3 separate regions of the Homo sapiens genome follow, and regions 1 and 2 are each linked to region 3. Evidence: fine-mapped expression QTL. A gene starts in region 3. Each other region holds a variant in brackets. All regions are shown on one strand. Distances are between the middles of the regions. Region 1 holds the start of LOC105370175 (a long non-coding RNA gene). Region 2 holds the start of LOC105370174 (a long non-coding RNA gene). Region 3 holds the start of RGCC (regulator of cell cycle).

What was found. PIP is the estimated chance that this variant, and not a neighbour inherited with it, causes the effect.
Region 1: its variant is fine-mapped to the expression of RGCC in esophagus mucosa (GTEx, PIP above 0.99).
Region 2: its variant is fine-mapped to the expression of RGCC in whole blood (TOPMed, PIP 0.97).

Annotation. Positions count from the first base shown.
Region 1 is chr13:41,544,127-41,552,306 of GRCh38, forward strand. The region is part of intron 1 of LOC105370174 (a long non-coding RNA gene); the gene reads left to right. LOC105370175 (a long non-coding RNA gene) reads right to left here and starts at 8,076. Exons shown (of 3, transcript XR_941904.3): 1 at 7,987-8,076; 2 at 4,889-5,116; 3 at 2,760-3,034. The variant G/A (reference allele first, on the strand shown) is at 3,716.
Region 2 is chr13:41,514,693-41,522,872 of GRCh38, forward strand. It overlaps LOC105370174 (a long non-coding RNA gene), which reads left to right and starts at 2,476. Exons shown (of 3, transcript XR_941901.2): 1 at 2,476-2,599. RefSeq lists an enhancer at 6,312-6,481. The variant C/T (reference allele first, on the strand shown) is at 4,836.
Region 3 is chr13:41,454,174-41,462,353 of GRCh38, forward strand. RGCC (regulator of cell cycle) reads left to right here and starts at 3,377. Exons shown (of 5, transcript NM_014059.3): 1 at 3,377-3,583; 2 at 4,112-4,297. The coding sequence starts at 3,535. RefSeq lists a silencer at 3,150-3,989 and enhancers at 3,563-4,240, 4,290-4,419, 7,667-7,766.

The sequences.
Region 1 (8,180 bases), 90 kb after region 3:
TCCTGACCAACACTGGTGCTTCCCCTGTGGTCCTGCTTGGTATGTGGTGACCCCCTTTCTGGAGCCTGTGAGTGTAATGGACTTCATTGTCCTGCGCCTCTCTTGCATCTCCTCTTGTGGCTGTACCTGACCTGACCATTGCTTGAAAGGACAGAGCAGGGAGGCTGAAAACATCTTCGCTGTTTGCCTCGGGCTCATACCTGTTCCCCTTGGGTGTCCTTTTCTCTTTCTCCAGCCCCAGGTTGATGAGTGACCCATTCATGATTTGTGTCCTGTGCTGGGCAACTTGATCCTCCCGCTTCCTGGGAAGGTGATGGTGGTTATGTCACCATAGTGGAGATGTGGCAGCAAACAGATTCTCACAAATGTGAATCATTCTTGGCATAACTTTGATGTCACATAATAATAATAATGATAAAAAGTCCCCTTTCCCACCAGAGGTGAGATATAAAAAGCAAAACTTGAGTGAGGATGGAATAACCTATCCTGCCATGGTATAGTTTTTGCTTAAGCAAAGTTCTGTTGAATGAAGACTTGTTTGCTTCTTGGTTCTTAACTGGGTCTCAGACTATGCATGTATGCATGAGAGACGGAGAGAACTAGACACACACACACACACACACACACACACACACACACACACACACCTGTCCACACAGATGGCATCACCATTAAAGTCAGGCAATAGGACCCTTGCCTGGGTTCCCTTTTTGAGAAAGGTGCTCCGTCTCTCCTTTGACTGTGCCCTAAACCACATTATGAGGAAGCTGAAGGGCCAAGGAGATGCACTCATAGGAAACCATGCTTGCCCTGCTAGGCCACATTCTGGGCATTGGGGTCCTGAAACACTGTGCTCGGGGGGGCCCTGAGCCTGCTTCCAGAGCTTGCATGGGCTTCTCTCCTGGGCTTGTCCTGAAGGGAACTCCTCATTGTTGGTGTGTGCACCCTAGATCCAGTGGGGCCAAGGGCAGCTGCTGCGGCAGAAGGGGATGGGAGAGGAACATGCGAGAGAAGCAGCAGGCTGGCAAGGTGAGGAGGGCTGAAGGCTCATACCTACATCTGCAACCTCCCCTGGGCCACATGTACTGGTATGCCAGGGATACAGGGCAGTGTGCCCCTGCCTGCCTCGCCACATGACTTTCTTAGAGCAGTTGTTCAACAGGAGCCCTGATTCTGAGGATATTTTCCCACTAGACTCTCTCATTATTGAGTACTTTCCTGCCCAGGGGCCCATCCTCCCAGCACTTGGATTCCAATGTGGTTTGTGGGAATGATTCATGTGGCGCCTAATAATGGAGAAAGCCGTGGTTTATGGTTTAGTTTTGTCTGTCAGGTAAAGGTGGAGATAGTGACACACAGGAAAAAGTTCTCACCAAAGTCTCCAAAGGACACTGGGCCAAGGCCCCTCTCTGCATCTCATCTTCACATGGAGGAGGGGGTGGCCCTGCAAGCCATGGGGACCAAGCAGTGCCTCGTGCTCTTCCCAGGTGAGTGTCAGGAGGGCTGGGGATCAGTGGCCGCAGCAGCAACCCCCATGCTCCCTTTCTGGTCCCTTCACACGTCCATCTTTTTTCAGCTGTTGACCATGATTGATGTGTTGGACTATGTTTTTTTGGTTGTGCCCCTGGATGGTTGGTTTTTTGAGATGTGGGGTCAGTCTCTTAATCTCACTTGTCTAACAAGAAGATCCAAACAAAGACCTTCTCCTTCTGGGTTCAAATGGGACGTCTATTCAATGCACACTCTGCCCCTCTGACATGCAGTTTCCCTCCCACGTGGGGAGCTCCAGCCCGAATCACTGACCCCACTTCCTCTGACCACACGCTCCCTGACTGCCAGTGTTCCCTGCCTCTGTTCGCCAGGCTCCACACTCCAGGCTGGAGGCCTTGGCTTCCCCCTCGGCTCCCTGCACCATTGAGCCAGTGGCAGCAAGTAGCTTCATCAGCTTTATTGGTGGAGGATCCAGGGGAAGGCTGTTTAACTCCCAGGCCAAGCTCTTTCCTCCTCTCCTCTTAGGCAAAGATCTGGGGCACTAGCTGGCCACACATGGGTGATGCTGCCTAAGTCACTTCTTGAAGCACTGGGTTAGACTGGTCCTTCCTGTCTACCTGGACCTTAGGACTCTTCCCCAGCAGGATGGGGTTAGAGGGCCCAGCGTGACCGAAGCATTGGGAGGGCAGGAACAAGTTAGTGGTGTTTGCCTCTCCCTAAGGCCTGGCTTACACTTGGAGAGGACCAGCCTTTGACCCTGCACAGCAGGCTGGGGTTCTGCAAACAGCCCCGACCCCAAGATGGATGTTCAGTGTGTATCTGCCCCCAAACTCCCACAGGCCTCAGAAAACCGAGGGCTGCCTCTGGGGGAGCAGGCTTTGGGCATTCCTGGGGCTGTCCCTCCGCTCTGCCACTTAACAACCGTGTGGCTGTGGTTGAGTGACTCAGCTCTCTCTGTAAAGCAGGGATGGAATGAGTCCTTTGAATCAGCATGGGGAAGATCCAGTGAGCTTCTATATGCCCAGCGCATCACAAGGTCTTGGGAATTAGTGGTTAGTACTGTTGTTGCTGCCATTCATCCATCCCTCTTGCAATTGTTAGTTTACTTTCTGTCTTCCCCAGAAGCTCCTCTCTCCATATCTGTGCCGTCCGCTTCTCTGACCCCAGAACCCAGTGTCAATACATATGGCTGGATAGATGGTTGAATAAATGAATGAATGAATGAATGAATTTATTGTTATGGAGATTAAATGAGACGCCACAAAAGCTCCAGGAACAGAATGACTTTTTATCTGGAGAAGGCAAGGGGACAGGCCACAGGCAGCCCGCATTGAGGCAGGCCCAGGGAGACACATGAGGCCTGGGTTGCAGCATCACAGCACAGCGCGGGAGAGCCCAGTGCTGCTGTGGTGAAGGTGTCCAGGTGGGTCACCTTTGCTGGTGGCTCTTTACTTCCGACTTCTGTGTGTACTCACCTTCCCAGACCCTTGGCCTCCCTGGGAGAGCTGCCCTCCTGGACCTGAGCAGTGGGTGACAGCCGCACCTGTCCACAGGGAAAATGTTGTCGATTTTCTGTCAGTGTGAACTCTCACATTTACATTTTTGCCAAGCTGAAAATAACAGTAACATAAACACGCCTCCATGGCCCTGTCCTCTCTGAAGGGAGAGGAGAAAAAAGTGCAGCCCACTCCAGAAAACAATGTTCCCTCTGTTAGCAGACACGGGCTTCTGTTTAAGTCCCCAGGGCCCCCACGGCTGCAGTGGAATGAGCTGGGCCCGGCCTGCTGGGTGTACCGGCTGCCTGGGCAGCCCCTCCCGAGGCCAGCCTTGTTTACGACCGTGGGAGAGGGGGCCGCTCCCAGCCCAGCTAGGCACCCGTGAGGCACTGACCAGCCAGCCCTGTGGGAACCCAGGGCCCTGAATGCCTCCCCTGTGCAGAAGGGTCAGTGCTTTCCAACCCTCTGCCCTGTGCACTGTGGTCAAGGGCACATCATGTCCCCAAGCACAGAGTGTGCTCAGGGTCCTATTCTTCACAACAGCCTTCCTTTCACTGCCTGCTCAGCAAGCAGAAAAGGTTAACATTTCCATCTTCCGTCCTAAGGAGATGCCTGCTGGGACTTGGTCTCAGGCATGAGTCTTTTCTTCCTCCTTCCTGGGAGGGGTTGGAACTAAGCCTCAAAGCAGAGTAGCTGACAACGTGGCGTGGGAGAGGCTTGGATGTGTC[G/A]CTGGAGAGAAACATTCTTGCCACCCCCACCCTAAAGAGGCTGCGGGGACAGGCAGCCCAGCCCTCCTGGCCTATTTTCGGGCTGGAGAGAGGTTCAGTCTCAGGCACAGTTTTGGGAGGCAGATCAGCCTCCCTGTTCCGGCCTCCCACTCCCATGGAGCTCTCTGCTGCCTCTTCCAAGGGGCCGCAGATACCCGTTCCTTGCTCTATTTCTTCACCAGCCCTACCTGTTCTCAGTCCATTACCTCATGGCCCTGCTCTCTGCTTACTAAAGTGACAATTCGTCTATAAGGAAGCCCTTGCACTGTAGCTGAGGATTCGCGAGGCTGCACCCTCAGCAGGCACTGTGGCCACACAGCACTGGCCTGAGATCTGAGTTCCTGGAGCCTCGGCCCTGAGGCCCATGGTGAGTATCTCTGTAGCTACTCAGCCAGCCTGCCTTGGCCTGGTGATCAATAACCTGGGACCTTTCCCCCAGCACCAGCATCTGTGAGCTCAAGGAAGACATCTGAACTTCTTGATAGCAGGGCAGGGCCAAACCATCTACTGAAATCATCAGCAAAAGTGAGGGGAATGCAGGACTGGTCGCTCCAGAAACTTCTAACTTTTTAGCTAGATGTAAATCATCGCACAGCTTTTGCTGCAATGTGGACATTGTGAAGGGTGTTTTGCCTCTTTTAGGGGTGCAATAAAAAAGGAAAAATAATGGAATGAGAAAAAAATCCAAAAAATGGATAAAAATCTTTGGTCAAGTCCTGTAAAACTATGATCTTAGTTCTCAGAGTCTATGGGAAACACATCACAGTGGGTCGACTTATTTCTGTCTCCAACCCTAGAGACCATCTCGTGTAAAAAAAAAAAATTTTGTAAAACAAGAAGAGTTAGTCTTATTATTCAGTATACCACAATTACTTGCTTAGTTTTCATTTTGTTGAGCTGCTTCTGGTTTAAATATAATATATATATTTGAAGTCTTAATAGCCATTGTGATCACAAAACTGCTGGCAAGTTTTATCAAAACCCTTAAGACAGGCAAACGTGAGGCTCTTAAAGAGAAAATCCTCAGTCGCCCCCTCATTTCTAATTTATCTAGCACAGTCAGTAAACATGTCTTTCAGAGGGAACTGAAGACAATTAGAAATAAATCAAGATACAAATGAATTCAATACTTACTGTTGTATAGATCAGCAGCTGTCAACCAAAGGGTAGCTTTGCCTCCCAGGGGCCATTTGGCAATGTCTGCAGACATTTTTGATTGTCGCAGCTTGGAGAAGAAAGGCTGCCGCTAGCATTCGGCGGTACAGACTAGGAAGTCTACAATGCTCAGAATGGCCTCCCACAACAAAGAATTGTCTGGCTTGAAATTCCATAGTGTCAAGGTTAGAAATGCTGGTATAGAAACTATGAGAGACACAAAACGGCATAAAGGCATAATTACTGCGTTTTAGGAATTTGCAAGCTAACTTGTTTTCAAAATGCTACATAATGAAAACAGACTTTAATTTCTCGTATTTATTTCCCTTGCTCTGGTCCCTGTTTGAGATGTATGGGAAAGCCAGGAGTCCCGCGATGCTTCTGAGTGAGGCATTCTGGGTAGCGCCAAGAAGGGCAGTACAGGGACATTGGTGCATGGGCCACGGGCAGATGGCCCTTGCTGGGCTCAGCTGTTCACTGGAATGTGCACTATTCTTGGGGTGACAGTGAATGACTAAGCCATTTTACCTTCAGGGGGTCTGCAGCTCTGAGGCCACCCAAGGACACCAAAACCAGGCCAGGAAGCTCTAGTGGGGAAGGTGATGAGAGGGGGGGCGTCGGTGCACAGAGCGGCACCGTGGCTGCGTCCAAGTCCAGTCGGGTTTTGGAATCTTGTCCTGCGTGTCTGTTTGTGATTCTCTCACTCTCCTCTGGCTTCTGGACCTACCATGTTCTATGGAGCATCCAAAACTGGGGAGCTGACACCTCAGGGCCAGCCCTGCACTCTCATTTCTGGCGTATACCACAGTGGGCCTTACTTGGGAGGCATTCGGGGCAGGGCCCAGCACAGACGAGATTCTCAGAATGTGTGGACGATGGCACTGTAGTTGAAGAGGGGAGTCCTCGCTTCTAGAGCTCCACGCCTGAATATTTACAATGAAATGATGTGATAGCCGGGATTTACTTCAGAGTAACCTGGAGTGCAGAGACAGAGGCTAGGCGATGGGAAACGAGAATGGCCATGAGCCTTGGGGATGGCCCATGGGGGTCTGATCTACATCTGTCTCTGCTTTCGCATGCATTTGAAATTGTTCATAAAAATATCTGTTAAACCATACTTGTCCCTCCAAGGCCAAGGCATGGTATAGGGGCCAAGGTGAGTGAAGAGGCCCCGGTTCTCTTTTGGAGAGAATTACTTGGTTTGGAATGAGAGTTTTTAATATCTCCCTGTTGATCTGGAAGAGTGGGGCTCCTGTCACGGGTGGGTAGGGGACCCAGTGCCAGTGGTTAGGGGAGGCTGGAGGCTGGCTGGGTCCATCAGGATGTGCTGGTGAGGACGCGGCTCGGGCCATCCCCTCAGAGCTGCCCTGAAGCAGGAGGCCTTGCAGGGGTTTGAGGAGGCCGAGTCTGCACTCAAGAGGTTGCAAGAACCAAGCTGCCCTGATGCCGGGGATGGGCCCCAGGCTGAAAGCCTGAGCACAAGCCAGGCCTGAAGGGCACTGAGCGGCCAGAGCTGACGGCACTTCTGAGGGGCTGAATCAGAGTCAGTCCCAGGAGAGGGAAGAGGATGAAAGGAATCAGGAGGGCTTGTTTGTGCTTTAAGCCTGTCCACAAGAACCAGGAGATGGGCTCCTGGGATTTCACAATTCGAGGTCCGTCTGGTGCCTCCTGCATCCTCTGCACTTGCACATTGTGTGACATATGAAAGTCGGAAGTGACCTGAAGACACGTGCACCACAAGGGATGCTGTGGAGACGCCCTACAGGGACTCTGATGTGGGGGGCATTTCCGATTTCTGGGGCCTGGCTTTTAGATGAAGGCAGCAGAAAGTTACCTAAAGACAGCAATGGAGAGGTCTTTAGTGATCCACTGCTGTGTAATAAACCACCCCGAACTTAATGGCTTGTAACAGCAAGCATATATTCCCTGCCATGTTTCCGCAGGTTGACTAGGCTCAGCTGGGCAGTTCTTGGCTGGTCTCACTTGGGGTCTCTTGGGAGGTTGCAGGCAGAATGCGCCTGGGCTGGAGTCCTCTGGTCGCTCTCCCAGGGTCCCAGAACAGCTGCCTGTCTACGTGGTCTCAAGGCCTTCGCTCCCTATATGGCCTTTCTATGCAGTGTCTCCATGCAGACTTTCTGGTGAAGGGAGCTGGGGGCTTCTCACATGGAGGCTCGGGGCTCCTCAAAGTGCAGAACCAGAAGCCTTCTTAACACTTAGCCAGAAGCTGGCCCAGTGTCACTTCTTCCTCCTTCCTTTGGTTGAGCTGTTGTGGCCAGCTCAGGTCCAGGGTAGGGAAGTAAATTCTTGATGGGAGAATGACAAGGAATTGTGGCCATCATTAATCCACCATAGGGACCCAGTCTGGAGCCTGCACAGAAGTGGGGAAGCTGCGGCCGTGTTAGGTGATGCCGTCTTGTAGACGCGGGAGATGCCAGAACCGCTATCCCTGGCTCCTTCTCTGTGTCCTCGCTGACTTGAACAAGCAATGGGTCATTGTAACATCTTCAGATGCCTCTTGGCTTCATGTCATCAGCTATAAAGTGGCATCACAGTGATATCTCTCTGGGGCCAGCCCTGGGTCCACCTGCCAACCACCTCCCTGTGCACAGTTCTTGGAAGTCATTCATTCACCTGACCAGACGCTGAAGCCAGACCCGTCCCCACCCACTGAGGCCACCTCCGTAAGGTCAGGTTGTGGCCATGTGCTGGGTCATTTCACTCCCTTCTGGGCTCACAGGAAGGAAGGAGGTCTTTGCAGGGGCAAATGGAGCACCACCTCATGTCTGCTGCACCTGCTCACATCCTCTAGCTCCTCCTCCCAGCAAACCTGCCTCAAGGGCACACAGAGTCCTGGTGGAGTCAAGACTCGAGTCCAGGTCCTCATACAGCAATGCCTTGTCTTCCCTGCAGGCTCCCAGGGGCAGGCAGGTGGGAGATGGGTGCACAGGGAGTGCCATCGTCCCCACACCCAGACTCCTCAGGGATTCTCTTTCCTCAGTTACAAAGAGTGCTGGCTCTGCTAGCCAGGACAGATGTTAGCAATTTTCAAGGAGCAAACATTTCTCATTTCATCTTACCTTAATCAAGTTACTTGGGCCCTATCCACAAAAGTGTCTGAGGAACAGATGACTGAAGAAGGGTGACAGCTGCTGCTGGCCTGGTGGGGGCCTCTGTGCAGTGAATGGCTGGCTGGCTGCTGGATGTGGCGTGGCTTGCTGATGGGCATGAATGTGGGGAGCGGGAGCCTGCCTCTCAGCTTCCTGCATCTGGA
Region 2 (8,180 bases), 61 kb after region 3:
CTCTTCATTTTGCATTTAATATTAAACGTGTTACTACTTACACCTGAAAAGAGATCCCTTAGGAACAAAGACTCACAGCGTTTGCATTACAAACTTCCCTGTGCTGATTTTGACTGAGGATAAACATCTTTCTGGAATGGACTGTGAATGGAAAGGGAAAATGTCACAATTTGAATGCAATTCAAAGTAACATCAGAGAAAGGTCAGTGCCTTCGCATGAGACCTCTCTTTTCAAAGTAAACAAGTGGAGCATAAAAGCACTTTGGGAGGTTTCTTTTCTTTTTTTTTGTTTGAGACAGAGTCTGGCTCTGTTGCCCAGGCTAGAGTGCAGTGGCGCAATCACGGCTCACTGCAACCTCCACTTCCCAGGTTCAAGCGATTCTCCTGACTCAGCCTCCCAAGCAACTGAGACTACAGGTGCCCACCACCAAGCCCAGCTGTTTTTTGTATTTTCAGTAGAGACTGGGTTTTACCAGATTGGCCAGGCCGGACCTCAGGTGATCGGCACCTGATTCTCCAGTGGACACAGCTGGGGGGTGTCCTATAATTCAATTCTGGAGATGGTGTCAGATCCTGCAGCTTGAAGACTCAGTCCCACGGACTGCCCCCACTTCAGATGCCAATTACTAGTCCCAGGTGGTGACCTTTTGACAAATGGGCTATAAATTGGAGCTTGAGTTCAACTCCTGACCTCTGGTGATCCGCCCACTTAGGCCTCCCACAGTGCTGGGATTACAGGCGTGAGCCACCGTGCCCAGCCAGCACTTCAGGAGTTTTATGAGACCAGTGCCGCTGGCTCCTAGACTGACCTATTCGATTGTGGAGTGTCACCCCTGGACCCCACCCACAAGCCCTAAGAGCTTAAAAGTCTACGGGACAAGGTTGGTTCTGACATAACTCACGGTTAGCAGCTGGGTCCCTTGAAGGGGAGCAGGAAGTAAGGAAGTTTCAGTGGCCAAGTGCGGTGACCACCTGCCTGTGCCAGGCCCCAGTGACGGGGTGGAGGGGTCAGTGCACTGCACCCTGGGATGCCAGGTGGACACGGGTTCCTAGTCATGCTTTCACTCTCCCCTGGGCCTGTCGCAGGTGTGTTCTTTCCGAGCCTCCCCTCCTTCCTTTTGCCGTAACTCTGGCGATGGCCAACAGTGCGGGGAGGGCAGGATAACTGCAGCCAGGGTACCCAGCCAGGAGGAGCTGGGGACGCTAGGGTAGAACAGGTCTGGTGTGGGAACAGAAAGGACAAAGGCAGGGAGCAGCAGTAGTCAGCCAAACCACGAAGTGGCAGCAAGTCCTGGCCAGGTGGATGGGGCGGGGGCTGGCAGGAATGCCACGGTGGGTCAGGTAATGTGTACAAATGCCCAGGCAGGGACACCCATGGGGACTTCCTCTGGGAGCAGGTGAGGGGCTGGCCAGTAGTGGGGAAAGTGGGCTAGGTGGCTAAGGCACAGCCTAGGCAGCAGTCTGCTGGGTGACCTTGGGCAAAGGACTTAATCTCCTTGGGCCTCAGTTTCCTTGTCTGTCAAAAAGGATGGCCCTGTCCTTCCCCACATGCTTGGGCTTATGATGTGGATGAGGTGATGAGAATCTCAAGGGCCTGGGCTCCAGGCAGGTTGCCAACTCAATATAATATGATGAAGACCCAGTTCTCAGACTAAGATGCTGGGCGTGGCTTGCATCTGGAAAGTTCTAAGGTCAGAACTAGGCCTCAAGGTGGGGCTGAAAAGGCAGCAGAAGCTGTCGCAGAGGACCTGAGAGTCAGGCTGGCGCAGGGGTCCCCCAGGGGTGGGTGGAGATGGTTCTGCAAGGTGCTTAAGTGAGAAGCAAAATGAATGTTGAGAAATGCCTCATGACATAGCCCCTTCTTGGAGAGTTAGAAAGCATCGACCGTATTAGTAGTTTTGAGAACTCCTGCTGTTAAGACACCTCTTTAATCCCAGTGATTCTCATACCGACCTTTCCCCCTTTTCCAAATACCTGGGAACTATATACGCTAGAAACGTTTGGGTTTCAAATCTCTCAGAAGTCCTTCTTTCTCTCTTTGGGATTGGTCTTAGGGTGGGGGCTGTGGCAGAGGATTCTCCCCAGCCACAGGGATTGATGAAGGAACATAGCATAGGAACCTGGCCGGGCCTCATGCTATTTTATTTTTCTTTTTTAAGAGAATAAACTTTTGATTTTGGAATAGTCATTAATTTATGGGGAAGTTGTGGAGATAGCCCAGAGAGTTCTCTGTACCTTCATCCAGCTCCCCCTAATGTTAACGTCTCACACAACCAGAGCGCATTTGTCAAAGCTAAGAAATTAACACTGGCCCAGTATGGTTAACTCTCCACAGACTTTATTCAGAGTGTGCTTTATTCAGTTTTTCCACTCTGTCCTTTTTCTGTTCCAGGAACAAATCCAGGATATCACATTGCAGTTAGCTTGCTTTTCTTTTTCCTTCCGTATTCCTTTTACCCTCAGTCTGTTTGGTTGTTGTTGTTTTAGCTTCCTCCTCTCGTACTTCGTGTCTGAGGCCTGGAGAGCAAGGTGAGGGGGACGGTGAGGTGAGCACAGGAATCCTCTGCACCAGGACAGACACCGTGATGCCTTCTATGAGGTGAGTGGTGGCTGCAGGGAGAAGCCCGCATTGTGGCCAGATGGAGAGGGAGTTCGGGACACCATCACCAGTCATGAGCAGGCTGAGGAGGCTACAGGCCAACTGGCTGAGAGAGCAGACTCTGCATCTGGTGGGTAACTAAATGGGCTGGTGGAGAAATCCATGAAGCTTGAGGGGCCTGCCATGTCTACAGCTGCTTTCTGAGGAAAGTAGCCCCAATTGTTCGCCATCTCAATCACAGGTGCAGGTGGGGTTTGTTAGTGTCAGTACCTTAGCATGTTAGCAGAACCCAGCCCTGCTACCTGAGACCCAGATGGTTCCATCAGGCGTCACAATGTGGGTCAAGGCAATGGGCCAGGTGAGGGGGCACTCAGGCACCAGGGTGGCTTGGCAAGACTGCTGCTCAGAGGTGCCCCATGGTGATGGAAACAAGCCAGTCAATCCTAGCTCTCCCTACATGAAGGGCAGGCTGTGTAAGCTCCGGGACTATCTGCAGTACCAGGAAGAGACACTCCTGGGTCTCTCTGAAGCCCACTCCATGCACCAGTGGAGCAGACAATTTCGCACCTACCCACCATGGATTTATCCCCTTCTTTGCCAGCACAGCCCTGATTTAGTTCTGGTCTCTACCCTTTGCCCAACAGCCAAATGCTTCAGGAAGGCTGGCTTTGAGGGGCAAGTGCCAGTTGGTGTGCAAACTCATCAAAGAGCTCTGATACTGCCTGCCAGTAGTTGCTTTAAGCATGGACATGTGTATAATTCTGGCCAACAAGCCAGATGTGAGGGGAAGTCCCCTAGTGTGTAGGGGGCAGGAGAGAGGGATAGGTGTTCTGAGAAAGGTTTCCTCACTCTCAACAAGCGACACAAAGATGAAATGGCTCCTTTTCCTGAGTCTTGGCAATGGTATGCCCAGATGTGACACCTGGAACGTTGGTAGCCATCTTGTGACTGAGAGAGCAGTGAGATGAGCAGAAGGGAATGATGGGAAGAACCAAGGTCCTCTCCATGTCACTGAGTCACCCAAAAAAACCAAGCTTGGAGCCTGCTGCCTTTGGACTTCTTGTTGTGTGTAAGCCAGTTGATGTAGGCTTTTCTTGTAACTTGAGATCATGGAATCACCCACTACCAGATCTGTGACCTGAGGGACTGCACCCCATGAGGCTGTCCCAGTTCTCCCTCTTGGTCCTGTGAATTCATGCCTGAGATCTCTGGATTAGTTCCCTGTTAATCTGCCAATAATTTAGTGGTTTAAACCAATGCAAATTTATTCTTTTACCATTCTGGAGGTCAGAAGTTTAAAATCAAGGTGTTGGCAAGGCCACGTTCCTTCTGAAGTCTTCTGGAGAATCCTGTTTCTTGTCTATTCCAGCTTCTAGAGCCCCCCACCATTCTTTTCCCCTCTTGTAAGGACCCTTGTGATTCCACTGGGCTCACCTAGATCATCTAGGATCATCTTCTTATCTCAAGATCCGTAACACAATCCCATCTGCAAAGTCCCCTTTACCGTGTAAGGCAGCATATTCACAGGTTCTAGGGATTAGGGTATGGATATCTGAGGGAGGGAATTATTCAGCCTAACAGCCTCCCTCACCCAAAGTGATCCATGTGTCCCTCTCCTGGTTCTTTGGAGGCTGGTGGTTCCTGTGGCTTCCTCTCCATGGCACCACTTGCATGGACCCCAGCCTGACAGCCCACCTAGTGTTTCCCACCAATCAACTATGGAGGCTCTGCTTGGGCCTAGTGTCTATTCCTCGTGGGAGAGGAGAGCCTGGGGAAAGGGGGGGAGAGAGAGAGAGAGAGAGACTGTGGATACAGAATGAACTGTAGCTACTTCAAAGTGGAGAGAAATAGTGGCCTTGTGTTTTCTCAATAGCAGCGAAGCTGAAAAAGATGTCAGAGGTCTACCAGATGGTTTCAGTGAAGTTCAGTGTGTCCTTATGTACTCACTGCTTTGGGGATCCTCCTCAACATCAGAGTCCCTGCAACTCTGACTAGATCTGGGTGCATCTATCAGGGCATATGAGGATCAGAGTTGGACTTGAAAACCAATAGGCCACTGATCTGTCTCTCCTCCATTCTGGACATTGGCTAGATTTGTGTGGGTAGAATTCAGAGTTGCAGGGTCAGCTTTTGGGAGCTTTCCAGCCACTTTTCTCCTTTATGCCACATGCTGGGCTTCAGGCTGGGCCAAAGAGGCCCATATATGGAACCTGGATGCATTCTGCACACCACAGAC[C/T]GCATCTCTGTGTGACCTTCCGCGTTCTGCCTTTGCATTGGATGTGAAGTAGGGTCACCTTGACTGTAGAAGGAGGGGTTGGGGCCAGGCTCTAAAGCCCTGCAGCTCTCCAACATTACAGCTTGTGTATGGGACATTGAAGAGAAATTTTTGGTGTCAAAAACAATGAGGACAGAGCATTCTTGGGGCTTTCATCATCATCCCCAACTCCAGAAAGGGTTGTGGTGGAGATAGTGGACTGAGTTGGCTTTGGGTGACCATCTCCCACAGCCTGGCCTAGGATGTGTTGTTCTGGCCTCTGAGGCATCAGAGCACCTCATGATGGCTCCAACTTGCTCCCACCCCATCACCCCTGCCATCTGTTCCCATGGGTGGGAAGACGTCCTAGCTTTGGAGCAGGCCAGCCCCATCAGGAGAAGCCAATCCGTGATGCAAGAGATGATAAACAGAGCAACACAAATCTTGTTTGGAGAGTAAGCCACTCCTTAGAAAGCAGAGCTAAGACATCCTTTTGTTGTCTAGATTCTAGGGATGATAACTTCTCACTCTTCCCCTTGATGAGTCCTTAGAGAACTGTAAACTTCCAAAGAATGCTTTGTTTAATGGGTTGAAAGAGGAAGAACTGAAAGGAGGAAATGGGGGCCTTTGTCCTCTAAAGAGTAAGCAGTGTGGATGATGACATCAACGGCCAATGTGGACGTGTCACCAGCACTGGCACCAGCAGCCCTGAGTTGGCACAATCTGGCTTCATGTGAATTCTTCTGCCACATTGGGAGTCCCTCTTGCCCTCGCTTGGCCTCACTTTTCCTAGGGAGATTACAAAACCTATGTACTTACCTGAAGGAAGTTGTGTTACATCCATGGGATAAGACGCCGGACTAGAGGGCTCCTTGGAAAAGATGGCGGATCTGAGAACCCAGTGCTCACAGGAGTAGGTGAAGCAGTCTATTGCTGTGTAGCTCTTGCTGCCTCTGACCTCCAAAGTCAGCATGAGTCTCCTCAGCAGACCACATGTGTAATTAGCATAGGGAGGCTTCTGGGAAGGCACCAGGCTTCTCAGACATAGCCATACGTGAAGGAAAAGACCCACAATCTGGAGGCCCAGGGGATGGAGGAGGAGGCTCTTGGCATTGGGTTTGGGCATTTGTCAGGGTCGTGGTTAGAAATCCCTCCTGGGCTTGTCTGCTCAGCGGTTTTGGGTGTCTGTGCCAAGGGTGGCTGGGGGGCCCATCGAGGAGTCCCCAGATCTGCGGGGTCTGATTCATCCTGTGTCAGCCCAGGGCGATGACAGATTGGTCCGATTTGGGGCAGAGAATTGCAAACCAGTGTTAACGAGAGACAAGCCTCTCCTAGATGGCTTTGGGGAACTTCTCAGCATGTGCTCCTCCTAAGCTCTTTGTCTCCTTTCCCATACTCAGCAGCAAGGCAGCCCACAGGCTCCAAGCAGTCCCTGGGGAAGCGGGGTGGTGGTGAGGCAGAGATGGTTTTCTACGGAGCCAGGATACAGTGGGGAGCAGGCACGCACATCCTCATGGGGATGTTCCAGTTACTAGCTAGAAAGGTGGCCAATTTCTTGAGATCTGAAAGGTATCAGGGTTCAGAGTGTGACTACTGGGAGGCCATTCTGCCCACACTGGCCATTGGCCAGGGCTACTGGGTACTTGATATAGCCAAGAGAAGCAGACATTGGGGGTAAGATGGCATAAAGGAATCCCCTCGTTAGCCAAGAAAATGCAAGATCCTTTTATCAGTCAGGGTTTATAGCTGCAAGCAAAAGCAACTGCCCCTGGCTGGTGAAGCAGAGACATTTTATTAACAACAGTGGGCAGCTCATAGTGTCCCTTGAGCCCTGGGGCACGTGGATTGGAAGTCGCACAGCCAGGTAGAGCACCCTAACTTCTGCCACTGAACCCATCTGGGAAAGACATATTTGCTTTGCTACAGGGCCCACTGTCAACGCCCCAACCCTGGGTGCTGGCTGGAACAGAGCCCCTGTACCTAGAAACTGGATGTTCTGCCACCAAGATCATCACTGCCCATCACCAGAACACAAGTTGTGCAGGGAGACCTGCTGCTTCTTGTAAGGGACAGAGCCACGCCACTTACCTTGTCTACCTGCCACAGGGGCTGGAGAAGCCAGTGTCTGGCACTTTTGATTTCTATAGTGATGGGTGGGTCTCACTGTGGGGGCACAAACATAGAAGGCAATACAGGTTTTTGGTGACTAAACAGATGACAGTTGTCCCCTACAAGGCATTAGGTTATAGGAACTGACTACAGGGCATCTGACTCTGCTCCTCCTTGGAAATGGCCTTCTTTTGATGCTAGTGTACCAGCCTCACCTCTGCTGAGGGTGGTGGACACTTAAGCTCAGTCATCTGTTCCTGAATATCAGATGTTCTGTGTAAAAATGCCAACCAGTAAACAATTCCTGCATTTAAGTTTTATTTTTTCAGCTTTATCGAAGTATAATTGTTTAGATTATAGATTCAATATAAAAAATTGAATCTATACAATAAAATTCAGGGTGTACAATGTGATGATTTGATGTACATATACATTGTGAAATGATAGCCACAATCAAATCAGTTAACTCATTCATCACCTTAGTTACTCTGTGTGTGTGTGTGTGTGTGTGTGTGTGTGTGTGTGTGGTGAAAACATTTAAGGTCTACTCAGCAAATTTCAAGTAAAGAATTACAGTATTATTAACTATAGAGTTAATAATACTGGTGTTTTGTATTATTAACTCTATAGTTAATAATACTTGCTGTGCATTGGGATCTGATGTTCCTGTTAGTATAGTTTCCTGTTATTATAAATGGAAAAGGTTATAAGGCACACATCCACCAATCAACTTCCCAAATGTGATTAGATGTGTTGAAACATCTATATAGGTAATAAACTACCACATTAGGATGTAAAATACTAGGCTGGGCAGCTTAGCTCATGCCTATAATTCCAGCACTTTGGGAGGTTGAGGCAGGCAGGTCACTTGAGGTCAGGAGTTCGAGACCAGCCTGGCCAACATGGTGAAATCCCATCACTACCAAAAATACAAAAATTAGCCAGGCGTGGTGGTGCACGCCTGTCTCCCAGCTACTTGGGAGGCTGAGGCAGGAGAATCGCTTGAACCCAGGAGACAGAGGTTGCAGTGAGCCAAGATTGAGCCACTGCACTCCAGCCTGGGCGATAGAGTGAGACTCTGTCAAAAAAAAAAAAAAAAAGGGGATGTAAAATACTTAAAACATAGCTTAAAACACTATAGTTGTTAAGGCCTACTTTGTAAGAAGTGACACCGTGATGCCTGTCAGTGCCAACAACTTGGGAAAACCTCATCCCCTT
Region 3 (8,180 bases):
CAGGGGGTGAACACTCCCTCCATGATATTGTTCCTAATACTCGGGGGTAAGAGTATGATATTACTCCCAATATCATAGGGGGTGTACTCCCAATATCCCAGGGGGTGTATAGTATCCCGACCGGTGATAGACTCCGCCACGATGCGGGGAGTAATATCACGCCCCTCTCCTTCCCTGGCTATTACGATACACATCGCAGGGGGGCGGGCGACGCTCGCGACGCGGGGAGAAATATCAGCCCCTCCTGACATTACAAGCCACATGGCAGGGGATGGACACCCCCAGTGATGCGGGGAGTAATATCTACCCCCCCTTCCCCATGGATATTAGGAGCCACATCGAAGGCGTGTGGACAGCCCCCGCTGATGCGCAGAGTAATATCAACCTCCGTCCCTCCCTGCATGTTAGCAGCCACTGTGGACACACAGTGTATTTACGATATTTCCAGTAAGATTATCTTTTCTATTGAACCTTATGAACAAGATCACAGGGGGGTGTACACATCCTGCGATATTGGGGGTAATATCATTCTCTCCTCCACAGCATACTGGGAACAATATCACAGGGGCGTGTATTCCCCCTTTCTTATTGGGAGTCATATCATACTTGCCTTCCATATATTAAGAACAATATCAAAGGGGGGGGTGGACACTTTGACGATATTGGGAGTAACATCATTCTCTCTATCCCTGGATATTAGTAGCAATATCACAGGGGGATGTACATTTCTTGTGATATTGAGAGTAGTATTATTGTCTTCCCCACTGGATATTAAAAACAATACCACATGGGGTGTCAAACCACCTGCCAAATTTGAGGGAATCTTATCCTCTCCCCTGCACCCCCCGCGCCCCGGATATTACAGACAATAACACAGGGGTAATGTACACCCACTGCTTTATTGGGAGAAGCATCATCCTCTCCTCCCTTAGATATTAGGAACAATATCATGGGGAGGGGGTGTACTGCCTCGGCGATATTGGGAGGAAAATTATCCTCTCTTCCCCTGGATATTAGGAAGGGTATCAGAGGGGGGAGAGTGTACATTCCCTGTGATATTCAATGTAATCTTATCCTCTCCCTCCCAGGGTATTAAGAAAAATATTACAGGAGGGTGTACACCCCCTGCAATACTGAGAGTCATATCATCCTCTTTCGCTCTGGATATTAGGAACAATATCACAGGGTTGTGTACTCCCCCTGCGATATTGGGAGTAATATCATTCTCTCTCCCTGTGGATTTTAGGAAGAGTATTACAGGGCTGTGTACACCCCCTGCGCTATTGGGAGTAATATCATCCTCTCTCCCTCTGGATAGTAGGAAGAGTTTCATAGGGGTGTGTACACCCCCTGTGATATTGGGAGTAATATCATCCTGTCGCCCTGAGGAGAGAAGCCATTTCGCTACTGTCTCCTGTCTCTGAAGAGGAGGAGGAAGTAAAAGTTGGAAAACAACAGGAATGAAGTCAGTGTCAAGACCAGCCGGTGGCAATGAGGAGCCGGCCTGAGGTGAAACAATCAACCCCCGTGACTCTAAGTACATGTGCTCTCAATCCATCAAGACCCTTTCACGTGGAACCCCTTAAAGCTGTAAGCCCTTAAACGGGCCAGGAACTCTGTCTTCCTTCCGGGAGCTCGGCTCTTAAGACGCGAGTCTGCCGAAGCTCCCAGCGGAATAAAAAAAACTCTTCCTTCTTTAATCCGCTGTCTGAGGGGTTTTGTCCGCTGCTCATCCATGCTCCATTTCTTTGTTCCCTGACCGGGAATCGAACGCAGGCAGCAGCGGTGAGAGCACCGAATCCTAAGCACTAGACCACCAGGGGAACTTAGAACCTTGTGGGAAATAGATTGCGCACCATTAGAAGTGGGTTGGCCATCAGAAGGAAGCCTGGACAGGTCCCTTGTTTCTAAGGCGTGGCACAAGGTAACTGGTAAAGATACCTAGACCAGTTCCCATACATAGACACTTGGTGACAGCTGGTGCTAGAACCCCCACAGTGGCTGAGGGCATGCAGCAGCAATACTAGTAGCAAAGGGACAGATAGCTAAGGAAGGATCCCGCTCCACTCACCCAGGGAAATCAACTCCTGAAGTTCTGTTCGACCCCACATCAGAGGATCCATTGCAGGAGATGGCACCAGAGATCCCAGTGGTGTCCTCCCCTTAACAGGGAAAGAGGCTCCCCACTCTTGAGCCCACAGTGCTTGTGCCTCCACAAGACAAGCATATCCCTAGGCCACCCAGAGTAGACAAGAGAGGAGGACTATTCATATGATTAGTGGTCATTAACATATACTCCTTTGTGAGGTGTATGTTTCAATGTTTTGCTCATTTTTAATTTTTACCAGGTTGTCTATTTGTGATTACTTTGTAGATGGGTCTTTCTATATTCTGAAAACAAATCCTGGCTGGGTGCGGTGGCTCACGCCTGTAATCCCAGCACTTTGGGAGGCTGAGGTGGGCAGATCACCTGAGGTCGGGAGTTCGAGACCAGCCTGGCCAACATGGACAAACCCCGTCTCTGCTAAAAATACAAAAACTAGCTGGGAGTGGAGGCTGAATGTTTCACTCCGTTACATGTTAATTGCTCTACATTTAATTAGCCGTCTGTGGTGAGAGGCGAGAGGCTAGCGCCTAGCTCAGCGCACAGTCCAGGGCGTTCGCCCCCGCAGGCCGCGGGGCAGGGTGGCTCGTTACTCCGTGGACACTGCAAGGCGCCCTGTTCGCGCTGCGTCGACGCAGTAGTTTCTTCCCATAATAAACCCCTTCTAGATAAAGTCAGGCTGGCGGGAGCGCCCTGGACCGTAGTTCAGGCCCCCGCGCTCCGCGGTGGGAACAGTTCAGGACTCCCCCAACTCCTGCCCCTCTCGCCCCGACCCTCTCCACTCCGCCCGCCCACCATCTCGGAAGTCCCCTTGGGACAATGCGTAGGGGACCTCCGCGTCCCCGACACCCGACTGGGACACGGCCGCGGGCTCCTTCGTCCCTCACCGCCAGCCAGGGAGGCTCTGCATGCCCACGTCCACTTCACAGCCGAGGAAGCTGCGGCTCGCGGAGGTGCCTGGCACGCGGCGGGAAGCAGCAGAGCTCGCGCCCAGCAGTCAGCTCTGGTGACGCCGAGGACACCGCGTGGGCCGGGTTGTCAGGGCGCGGGGGCGAGAGGCGGGTAAATATTTGGGGCTGTAACCGGGGCTTCGGCGACTCCTCGTCACCGCGGTTCCAGGGCGGGCGCGTGGCGAGGGCGGTGCCTGGGGGCAGGGGCCTCCTCGGAGGGCGGCGGGGACAGACCCGTCGCCCCGGCTCCGCAGCCCCGCCCCGGCCCCGCCTCCGCTCCGGCCGCCGAAGGCTATAAGATCTAGGAACCCGAGCCGGTGGTAGGGCGGGCGCGGACCGTGCTGGGAGCGGCGCGGCTGGAGCGCAGCGCCGAAGGGACTGGCAGGGCTGAAGTGTGCGGGACAGCAAGCCCCCGAATAGCCCCGGCTGCCACCTCGCAGGACCCAAGGCCACGCGCGCCGGGCCCAGCTGAGCCGCCTCATGAAGCCGCCCGCGGCGCAGGGCAGCCCCGCGGCCGCCGCGGCCGCAGGTGAGTGCGGGGTCCGGGGTCCCCTTAAAGTCTCGGCTCTGCAGATGGCGGGTGAGAAAGGAGGGGCCCCGTGTCGTCCCTTCACACCCCCCACCCTTCCATCCTCCCCGGCGGGAACCTGTCCCCGGTCTTCCCGCGCGGGCGGCTGCAGCCTCCTTTCCGGCCCGGGCTGGCCCCCATGTCCCACCTTCCCTCCACCACCAGCTCCGCGCGCGCCCGGGGTTGGGGGGAGCGGCGGGGACAGGTAACCGGCAGCGCCTGGGGAGGAATCTGGCCGCGCCAAGTCGCTGGGTGACCCTGGGCCTGGCGAAGGCTCAGTTTTCTTGTCTGTAAAACGGACTTGGTAATAGAACGCACTTCGGGGGTGGTGGAGAAGATTACAAGGTAACAGCGACTGCGTGGCTGTCACTTGGCAGAGGCGCCAAGTGTCAGTTATCTTCGGGAACCGTGGCGGCCCCTCCTGGCCCTGGGAGGTGGTCCCGCTGCCCCCCTGACTTCCGTGCACTGAGCCCCTGGCCCTGCCCGCAGCCCCGGCCCTGGACTCGGCGGCCGCGGAGGACCTGTCGGACGCGCTGTGCGAGTTTGACGCGGTGCTGGCCGACTTCGCGTCGCCCTTCCACGAGCGCCACTTCCACTACGAGGAGCACCTGGAGCGCATGAAGCGGCGCAGCAGCGCCAGTGTCAGCGACAGCAGCGGCTTCAGCGACTCGGAGAGTAAGTGCGGCCCCCGCTAGGATGGCGCCGGGATCTCCCAGCTCCCAGGACCTGCCCCGCGAAGGCTGCGGCCTCAGTTTTCTTATCAGTAAACTGAGGAATGGTTTCCTGAAGCTCAACGCAGTAGGCCGAGTGGTGGCGGGGCCCCTGACGATAATCACGGGAAAGGTCGCTGGAGGGCAGGTTGGTTCACTTGCCGCCCACGGGTGTGTCACCAGGCAGGCGAGTTTAAGCAGCTTGTCCCGACTCAGCCAGACAGGACTCCCTGGACCTGCACCAGGCCTTTCCGCAGTTTCCCTCCTCTTCTCCTTTCCGTGCCTCTCCCCTCTCAGCTGTAACTTTGCAGATGTGGAACAAGTGCCAGTGGAATGAGGGGGCACAGTGGGGACATGGGAGGGCGCAGAACGGAAATATTCATGAAACCAGGAAAGGTTTCATAAGCCCAAACTGCTGTTCTTGGGATTTATGAAATAACTGCTTGCATTGTCTTCTGGCCCTTAGCTCTCAGACTTGTTGCTCCATTGCATGCAGTTATGAAAATCTTTGGCACTGCTGAGTTCAAGTATTTTTCAGCCAGGTCCTCCACCAGGCTGGAGGGGGAGCCAGAGAGCACATGGGCATGAAGGTGGTTCCTGGTGATCTTTCTCACAATGGAGACTACCCCAGGGTCTCTTTGTCCTGAACAACTTTGTCAACAACAGCAACAACAACAAAAACAACAAAAGAGACAGCTTTTTCCAGGAACTCACATGTCCTGGGAGGATTACAGGTACCTCAAACAGCAAATTAGGTGCCTTTTTAATATTACATGATTGTTGGTTTCAAATCCAGAATTGCTTATTGTTTTTCAAAGGGCAAAGTCAATTTTAAACTCTTCTGTGTTATTCTTCAGCCTTTAATCCTTAGATGGGTTACAGGCATGAATGTCACTCCTTTTGCTGCCCTTGACTCAGGACGTGAAAGTAATGGCCTTTCCGTGTGATTCTCTTATTTTGAAACCTGGAGCTCTTCCTTGTTCCTGGGCTAAGATTCGGGGCTAGACATGAACATGAGCTGCCCTTCTGCAAAGGGATAAATGCGCTCACCACCCTGGTCAGGGTTTGACTCAGGAAGCTGAGTTCCAGCTTGTTTCCTTGGCAGCACTGCCAAAGAGTTAGACCAAGCTGCAGCTTTTGAGGTGAAAGGGGATGGAAGAAAGTACTGTTACTTTTCCACTTAGAATTTTTGGACTTTGTTCTTAATGAATAGGTTCATTTTCAATTTCAAAGCAAAGTGTTAACATTTTTGAAATTTGTCTCAATTCTAAAGGCCAAACTTAAATATGTCTCCTCCTACTGGGGCATGGAGCAAGTTATTCATCAAATACAGATTCTCGCATGGAAAAGAAAGCTAGGATAGTGTGTCGCTGCTGCTCTGTGGCAAAGAACAGCTCCTTTCTAAGCAACAGCCTCACTCTACTAGAATAGGTCTGAGCGCGCCCATTCATGGCTGATTGCAACTTCCACTGGGTGGGATTTCAGATCTAGAATCTGTTTTCAGATGCCTTAAAGAGAAGACATAGAAACACATTCTTAACAGTTTCAGGGGAGATAGTTGGGATAGTTTGTAGTTTTGCTTAGGTTATATGTGTCTGTTTTCTGCTTTTGTTGTTAACGGACTAACCCTTAGTTTGGTGGTTAGAGAAGTGATGGGAAGAACATAAAGAAAGCTCAGATGACATTTGTCTTTGCTTTAAATGTGTAGTTTTTCTCTCACAAGGCTAGTCAGAAATATTGTTGGCAGAAGCTGTGTGTATCTAAATAGTAATTTCTTAAGGAAGCATAATATGTATATCTTAATTGCTGCCAAGAATTGAGTACAGACATTTGTTATCCTCGTTTGTCTGTTTAATGCTTTTCTATGGGAGAGAATGCTTAAGAGAGGTAGATACTACTGAAATTTAGCTCATCAAGAGGGAGACACACCAGGATAAGGATAATAACAGCAGCTCACTTTTAGCAAACGCTTGTTATGATGATGATGATGATTTATTAGCTGGAATGGGAACCATGTCTTCACGAATAGACTGAAGTCCTTTTGAGCCCAGATCACATGCCTGTTTGTCAATGATGGCTGTTTATGAAGGTGTCTCTTTGAGGTGGTGGTCATCTGGCAGGGTCAGTAGAGCTTAGATTGAGCCTTGTCAAGGCCCTGGGTGATGAGTGGGATTTAGTTTCTCTAGCTGTGAAATTGAAAGGATGCTATTTAATAGTGCTATTAGGGAGAAAATATTTGCTCTGTTGAATACTTTCAAAATATCATTACAATGTACATGCTGTGCTATACCATATAGATACATTGGAGCCAGTGTCTCGCATGAAAATATTTTGGATGAATATGTAAACCAATGTTACCTTTGTTTTTTGCTCTAGTTTTTACAGCTCTGTCTGAAGGTGCACCAACCTTACAAGGAAGATCAAACAGCAAGCCTGTTCTTTGAAGAATACTTCTTTATTATCATTAAAAAAAATTTAGGTTGCTTGCACCCAAAGGCAAAAAATAGCCATTCCTCGTACTGAAAGAAACAAGTTACTCAGATAGGAAAGAAGAACAGATATTTAATAAGGAAATATTCCTTCCTGTTCCCACTTTCAGGGAGGCCTCTTAAGACATGAAGAGGACCAAAATAACAATTGCAGTATAACTTCACATGGTGGGGTGGGGGGTGTGGAGTTCAAATGTGGTTGATCAAAATAGTGTTGTTACTTTCGTTTAGACTTGATTCCAACATGTAAAAAAATCAGGCACTTTAGTGGGAGTGATTTTAACTTCAGTAGTGAAAGGGCAATGCAATTAAGAGTTAGGGTAGTGTTTCTCAAACTTCATCCTCAGAGGTGCTTTAGAAATTGACTACCTTTGGTTTGAATTTATTTTTAGAAATATATCTTCTTTTCAGTATTTTTAAAACTGTAAAAGGTAAACCATGTTTTCTCAAATGTGTTAAATGGAATTTTAACTCATTATGTTTCAAGTTTTAACCAGTGTGTTGACTTTATAAGAAGTTTATAATATTAACTTAAACTTTAAAAGGTGGTATGCACTTATACCTTTAAGGTATTGGGGTTTCACATAATTTTTCCTTTGACGGGGGAGTGTTTTGCTGCTCAACAGAAAAGGTCTGAAGTCTACTGTGTATGCTAGGGTTATTATGATATTGTAGGACCATTTAGGAAATGAGGAACTGGCTTCTTTAGCATCAGCAAGACTTAGAACACCTGCATATCTTTGCTTAGGCTATTCTGGCCTGGCCCTGGGAGAGGGGACCTTGTGGGCCCTGGAGAACCAGCATGACAGATGGCTTATGTGGCTTAGAAGCCACTGAGGTAGAACCTGAACTTGTTCAAGCCATGAGAGAATAAGGCCAATGAGGAGCCTTCAGGGTTCCCTGGTACTGTGTTAGCAATTCTGCATGGGTAATGGATCTTGTGATGCTTGGCAAGGCATATAGAGGGACAGTGCGATCCCAGAAAGGGAGCTGGGACAACAGTGGAGAAGTTGAGGAAAGATGCTCTTTCTTATTTTGCCCCCCTTTGGCGAGGCTATCAGAATTTAGATTTTCAGGAGGAGAAGTCAACCCACACCCCCAGCCATTCCCTGTGGCAAAAGGGAGGTAGGTCCAAAGCTTTCTTTTTCTTGGTTAATTACTATAGTTTGCTTGCTTTAAACGTGTGGGATCGTTCTATATTTACAGGAGCCTTGGGTAAGGTTTACTGTCTGTGGTTTTACTTCCCCCTGGAGCAGCACGTTGACATGCGCTAACCCTAAATTACCTTTCTCCCAACCCCCCTAGCTAAAAAAACACACCTACCTTTTAAACAAGCCTCTATTTTGCAGCAGTGTTTCT